2 linked regions of the Homo sapiens genome follow. The protein of the gene in region 1 purifies or fractionates together with the protein of each later gene. This does not show direct contact. Each region holds a gene or a part of one and is shown on either strand. Other genes may lie near its edges.

The links. The genes of interacting proteins can lie anywhere in the genome.
Region 2: the proteins of GLT6D1 (region 1) and GLB1L2 purify together in Homo sapiens (affinity purification with mass spectrometry; one large-scale study listed by BioGRID and IntAct). This does not show direct contact.

Annotation. Positions count from the first base shown.
Region 1 is NC_000009.12:135,633,041-135,636,540, forward strand, and holds part of GLT6D1 (putative glycosyltransferase 6 domain-containing protein 1), read right to left. Parts: intron 1-3,500.
Region 2 is NC_000011.10:134,338,488-134,341,987, reverse strand, and holds part of GLB1L2 (beta-galactosidase-1-like protein 2 isoform b precursor), read right to left. Parts: intron 1-3,500.

The DNA of each region.
Region 1 (3,500 bases):
ACACATACACGTGCATTACATACAAATCAGCCTACACATACGCAGACAGTGGTGTCTTCAGGGATTAGAGCTGTCTTTGGTTTGCCGTTTCCCCTGCCTCTCTTGCCATTAGTACCCAGTTGACCCCCTCCAGCCTTGCTTTGCAGTTTGTGGAATATTTAGACAACAAATATTCTCGCCGGCTGAGATGACTTTTCTACTTTTATTTTTATTTTTATCTTTATTTTGAGAGGCAGTCTTGCTCTGTCTCCCAGGCTGGAGTGCAGTGGTATGATCTCAACTCACTGCAACCTCCACCTCCCGGGTTTAAGCAATTCTCCTGCTTCAGCCTCCTGAGTAGCCCAGATTACAGGTGCCCACTGCCACGCCTGGCTAATGTTTTTTTAATATTTTTTATTTTTGTATTTTAGTAGACACGGGGCCAGGCTGGTCTCAAACTCCTGACTTCAGGTGATCTGCCCACCTCGGCCTCCCAAAGTGCTGGGACTACAGGTATGAGCTACCACACCTGGCCTGAGATTCCTTTTCTATAGAGGAGTTTGCTAGACAAAACACAGGACATCTCTTCAGTTTAAGATAAGCAATGAATAAATTTTTAGTGTAACTATTGCATAGGACATACTTCTGCTAAAAAAGATTCACTGTTTCCCTGAAATTCAAATGTTACTGAGCATCCTGTATGTTTATTTCCTAAATGGATCAACCCAACCAGTGAATAACTCCTTATTCTTTAAATAAATGAAAAAAAAATCATTCAAGTTTTAAATTTGAACAAAGACCCATTGCAATTTCAACAACAAAATATCTAGAATCAAGATCCATTTATTTATGCATTTCTTACCAAATAATGAGTGAGCACCTCCTACATGCCAGGCCCCTGGCTGTGGTTCCGGGGTAGATGGTAGAATCCGTGCCATGGATTAGCGTATGGGTCCCTGTCCCCTTTCTGCTGAAGATTACTCCATCATTATCCTCAAACAGAGCATCTGAAACTCTTTATAACTGGCCATGCATCCTTTTCATTAAGGTACAATCCTCCAGGAGGACAAATGACACAAAATACATGGCACCAAAGCAGTGGGGGTGGTCATTTTGTTTTGCTTTTTGAGACAGAGTCTCACTCTGTCTCCCAGGCTGGAGTGCAGTGGTGCGATTTCAGCTCACTGCAACCTCCGCCTCCCAGATTCAAGCTATTCTCCTGCCTCAGACTCCCAAGTAGCTGAGATTACAGGTGCCCACCACCATACCCTGCTAATTCTGGTGTTTTTAGAAGAGACAGGATTTTGCCATGTCAGCCAGCTGGTCTCCAACTCCTGACCTCAAGTGATCCGCCCGCCTCTGCCTCCCAAAGTGCTGGAATTACAGGCGTAAGCCACCATGCCTGGCCTTGTTTTTCCTTTCCTTTTTTTTTTTTTTTTTTTTTTGGCATGATTTATTTTTACTTTATTTCCCCTTTTTTGTTTCAATCAACTTTATTTTTAGAGAAGATTCAGCTTTACAAAAACGTTCTAAAGCTAGTATGCGGAATCCCCTGCACCAACCCAGTTTTTCCTATTATTAACATCTAGCTTTAGTAGGGTACTTTTGTTCCAATTCATGAAGCAACACTGATGCTGTATTGTTAACGAGAGTCCATACTTTGGTTGGATTTTCTTGTTTTCCCCTAATGTCTCTTTTTTTTTCAGGATCCCACCCAGCATGCCACACTCCACTCAGCCTCCTGTCTGGATCCCACCCAGCACGCCACACTCCACTCAGCCTCCTGTCTGCACAGGATCCTCTTGACTGCAGCCGCCTCTCAGACCCCATCATGACTTCCTATTGATGCTGACCTTGTTCACCTGGCTAGGGTTCTGTTTTCGGGCTTCTCCACGCAAAGACTGCTCTTTCTCCCCGTTTTCTTTATAAGAAAGCGCTGCGCGCAACCCAAACTTCAGGACTGGGGCGTCAGGTTCTGTGTCGTTGGTAGTGGAGAATCTACAGACATGATTTGGAATTCTTCTGCATATGGGAGATTTGTCTCTTCTCCCTTCTTCCTTCCTTCTATCCTTCCAACATCCAGCCAACCTGTCTTCCTTCCTTTCTTCCTTCTTTTTGCTCCTCCAATCATTCATTTACATCAGTATGAACTTGTGGAAGTTCGTTTCATACTTTGGGTTATAATTCAATGTTACTTTCTTTTCTTGCTCAAAAGGCTTCAGCTTTGGCCATCGGGAGCTCTCCCAGTTAGCTCCCATGTCCCATTTAAGTGACATACTCCCTTCAATATAGAATTTGTAAAAAAAATCCCTTCCATCCCTCCTGGCACTATGAGATGCTCTGGGCTCATCTTGTAAATCTCCTGTCCGAATCTAGAACCATCCACTTCTCCAAGAAGCCTTGGTCGCTTTCCTGGAGAATGGTGCCAGAAACCAAGATCTGTTGCTTTCCTGGAGAATGGTGCTAGAAACTAAGGTCTGCTGCTTTCCTGGAGAATGGTGCTAGAAACAAGATCTGTTGCTTTCCTGGAGAATGGTGCTAGAAACCAAGATCTGTTGCTTTCCTGGAGAATGGTGCTAGAAACCACGATCTGCTGCTTTCCTGGAGAATGGTGCTAGAAGCCAAGATCTGGGTACCAGGTGTGCTCATTGCTTCCAGGGTGTCCTTCCTCCGAGGCCCTCTCAGCTAACAGAGCAAGGAAATAGACACTAACCTGTGCGTATTTCCACATATCTTTAAACACGTTGACACGTAAATGTCTCTGTTCATAGTAAGGTAAACGTGAGTTCACGCTGAGGTCTCCAGCTTCAATCCATTCCCACGTGGATCACTGTGGCCCCCTCTCTTGCTTAACTATGAAGTTCCCTCCAACAGCAAGAAACTTGCTCCCCCATGCCTCATCCATTTATTTAATTGATTCAAATATACATGTATAGCAGCAGCAGAATTGTTAACTCATATTCCTGTGGGAAAAAACCTTTATTGACCCAAATACATGTACAGTGCTCATGTACAGTTTCTATTGCCTTTACTTTCAAACTCCACTCATACCCAGCTGGGCACTGTGGCTCACACCTGTAATCCCAGAATTTTGGGAGGCTGTGGCAGGCGGATCACCTGAGGTCAGGAGTTTGAGACCAGCCTGGCCAACATGGTGAAACCCCATATCTACTAAAAATAAAAAATTAGCCATGCCTGGTGGCATGTGCCTGTAGTCCCAGCTACTAGGGAGGCTGAGGCAGGAGAATCGCTTGAACCAAGGAGGCAGAAGTTGTGGTGAGTTGAGATCGCTCTACTGCACTCCAGTCAGGGTGACAGAGTGAGACTCTGTCTCAAAACAAAACAAAACAAAAAAAACTCCACTCATTCCTAAGTTATTTTAGGTCAGCAGCTTTTTCCCTGACCCCTTCCAGTGGGATTGTTCTGTACATTTGGGATATAGATTATGTTCTCACAGTCTGCATTGCTTCCTAGGATACCTCGAACCTCCTAGCTAATTTTTTAAATTTACATATGTTAAT
Region 2 (3,500 bases), on another chromosome or scaffold:
CTGAGTCCGGGGCAGGAGCCGGTGCTGGGTGGCTGAGTCCGGGGCAGGAGCCGGTGTGGGCTGTGCCTTCGTCCCCACCGGCGCTCGCTCCTGCCCTGACACTAGCAGGCGGTGGCCAGCCGGGCCCCACTGCACAAGACGCCCCTCAGCTGAGTGTCACAGAGGGAGGGAACAAGCGAGAGGGCCCAGATGGCCAGAGACGGGGAGGGGGCAGGGTGCCCACAGGGCAGAAGACAGCTCGGACATCGCCAGCCTCTTGGGAATTTTGTCTGGGGCCACTCTCAGGCAAAGAAATTTGCTTTTTTACCTACTCCTTCCTACTTCTCACAGCCCCAGGGCCTTAGAACTCACACCGAAGCTCCAGGACTATGGTTCTGCTGTGTTACAGATGAAAGGGTCATCTCATCTTGGGCAACCTGGGAATCTGTTCACCACATTTTTCTTTTTCTAAAGAGAAAACTTCCATGTTCTAGTAAATGGCTTGCAAATGACATTTTAGGACACAGTTCTTCCAAAGGACTGTATGAGACAGTGACAGCAAAAACGCTAGCTGGAATAGGAAGATCCGGATGTGAATCCTGGCCCCCAGCTTGGTAGAACTGTCGCCTTGGGTTAGTGACACCAGTTCTGTGGGCAGGAGCTTCTTCCTCTATAAAACGAGTCTAATGCCTCTCCCAACTGCTCAGAAAGGCTGCTGTGAGGGTCCCGGAGAAATGCAACACTCTCTGCTGTGAGTCGAAGGGTCTTATCTCTATCTGAAATCAATTTATTGTAGCATGTGTTTGCGTATTAGAGAGTTATGGGAACCTATTCACCACACTTTTTTCTCCAAAGAGAAAGCTTTAGAGAGAATAGCCACAAGTGGGTTTTATGTCCCTAATGTGGAATAATCCCAACTTCTCCATTCTCCCCATGGTGGTATATAGCTTATGTGCTAGACTTTGTGCCAAGCCATCTTATGACAATTTCTAAAATTTGACAATGAAAGATTCTGTACACTGAGATCCTATTAGACCAACACAGCCTGTAGGCCAGAGGTGGGCCAACTTGGGCCTCGGGTCAAATCCAGCCTGCCATCTGTCTTTGTGCAGCCTGCAAGCTGAGGATAGCTTTCACATTTTTAAGTGGTTGGAAAAAAATCAAAAGCATAATATTTTGGGACACATAAAAAATTATATGAACTTCAGTGTTCATAAATCATTGTATTGGCACACAGCCACACCATCTACGAATGGCTTTTTGCAGTTGAGTACTTGCGATAGACTGCGTGGCCTGCAAAGCTGAAAATATGTGCGATCTGCCCTCTCCCAGAAACTCTGCTGGCCCACATCCTTGCAGATGAAGCCCTGGAGTGCTAAGACAAGGCCTCGGCCCCTCTGGGCCACCGTCCGGGCCTTCTTTTGGTGCCCCCTGCTCTGCTCACCAGGCGCTTTGCTTTGGCTACAGGCTCACAACTGCTCAGGCCACACCTGCTCCAAAGCACACACCCTGCCACCTGCTCAGCCCTCCCTGCCTCAGGTACTCACCAGACTCACCTGCCCGCCGCAACACAGGTTCTCCCCCTGGTTCCCTCAGAGGCACATGCTGGGCTCACCCCAGGCCAGAATGAGGAAGAACTGGATGGACAGATTATTTTCTTAAAAACAGGGGCATTTTGACAACCTGGTGGTGAAAATACACACACACATGCACATGCACACACACACAAAATATCACTGTTTTTAAAGACAGTGACAATACAACTTAGCAATCATTCCACCAGGTACCAAACCTTATTCTCCAGCCAGAACTTCAAAAGCACAATCTCCAATTCTTATTAAAGCACACATTACTTATCCTAACATCTACTTATGGGTGCGAGAGCCTCCACTCCCCACCCTGCTAAATGCAGAGGTGTAGGCAGGGTTGGAGAAGCCTCTCTGACCGACATTCCAACACAGTCCCTGCTAGGAACCAACACCTTTAACCTCTCCCCTTGATTAGTTGATGACTAAGGATCAGGAAACCTCCCTCTAGGCTGACTTCTCCAGGTGTGGTCTATAGACAGCCACACCTCTGAACTCCCTCAGGGTCACAGCCGCCTGACTCAAAGTGCAGACACCTGGAAAGAGGCATCCCAATTCAACAACTTCTATCCACCAACCAGATTTCCAGGTCTTCATCCGCAGCTTGTCAGAAATGCATAAACCTTAAGCCTTACTTGAGACCTACTGAATCAAAATCTGCATTCTAACCAATCCCAAGGTTACAGCTCGAGAAGCCCAATCTGCGTCTTCTCCTTGGACACTACGTAGACTCCCTCCCTGGATAGAGCTTGTCTTTGCTAGTGTCTTTATAACACACCATTTTCTATATTTTTAGAATGAAACGTTCTTCTCAGTGCATAGCAAGAGGAATGAAATAAACAACAAGAATAAAAAACAATCTAGCTGTTATCCAATTCCAAATTCTGGTGAATTCAACTGTTTCTTCATGGGAATTTTCTGGTAGGTTACTAGAGAAGTTGTCAATACCTTATTAAAAGGGATGGATTCACCAAGAAAATGAGGATGATACGTGTTGGGTTTCTCCAAGGAATTCACTGCTAGTAAATGAGACCATGCGAGTTACAGCTTCATAAACAACGAAGCATCATGTAAATGGCTATTAACACTGATAATGATCATTAATACTAATAATCATAAGACGGAGAATAACCCCATAATTTCCTGAGTAACTCAGTAATAATAAAATAAAGGAAATATCAACAGTGTGGTTGGAGTTGGTTGGTTTAAAGGTCAGCAAGACTTTACTCCTAAATTAGGCTTGATACCAAGCAGCTAACCAAATCCTAAGGAAGCCCAGCGTGTTTCTGTCACTTTTCTTGGGGAGCAGTTCATCCACGATGGACCTTTATCTGATGAAACCAGGAACACCTGCCTTCTTTTGAACTGGAGCTTATGTTAACACTTTCTGCTAGGATTCCTGTTGCCTATGTATCTCGGCTTCATTTATCCAAAGCGATTTTTCCACCTTAGAAGAGTCCGGACAGCAAACCCTGAACTCAGTGCTCAGTGCCCAGGTCTGCTCTGCTCAGAGTCAGGCTCCGCTCCTCCACCTGGATGGAGAGGGTGGCCATGGTCATGGTCCAAGGTGGGGTTCCTGGAGGAAGGCAGGCACATCAGGACTTCTGATGGGGCCGCGCACAACCTAACAAGACCTCTACAGCCCATCCTCACCAGTTCCCTTTTGGCAAGTGGAAAAGGGGCATGCACTATTCGTGCTGAAGGCTGGGCAAGCTGCAGACACAAAAATTGGTTGCAATGGAAACCTGAAGCAGAGGACATAGGTACCAAGTTCTGCTGTGCCCCGTGGTGAGGAAGCAGGGGGAGGTGGAGCCCTCTGGAGTAATTTTTCCTTGACTGGTGAGGTGGGTCCTGAGGATGAAGGGTACAGGGCAGGCCCCAGCAGGCAGGAGATTCCAGGTGTAGTAAAAAGTGCTCCCGGATGTGAGTGGATGG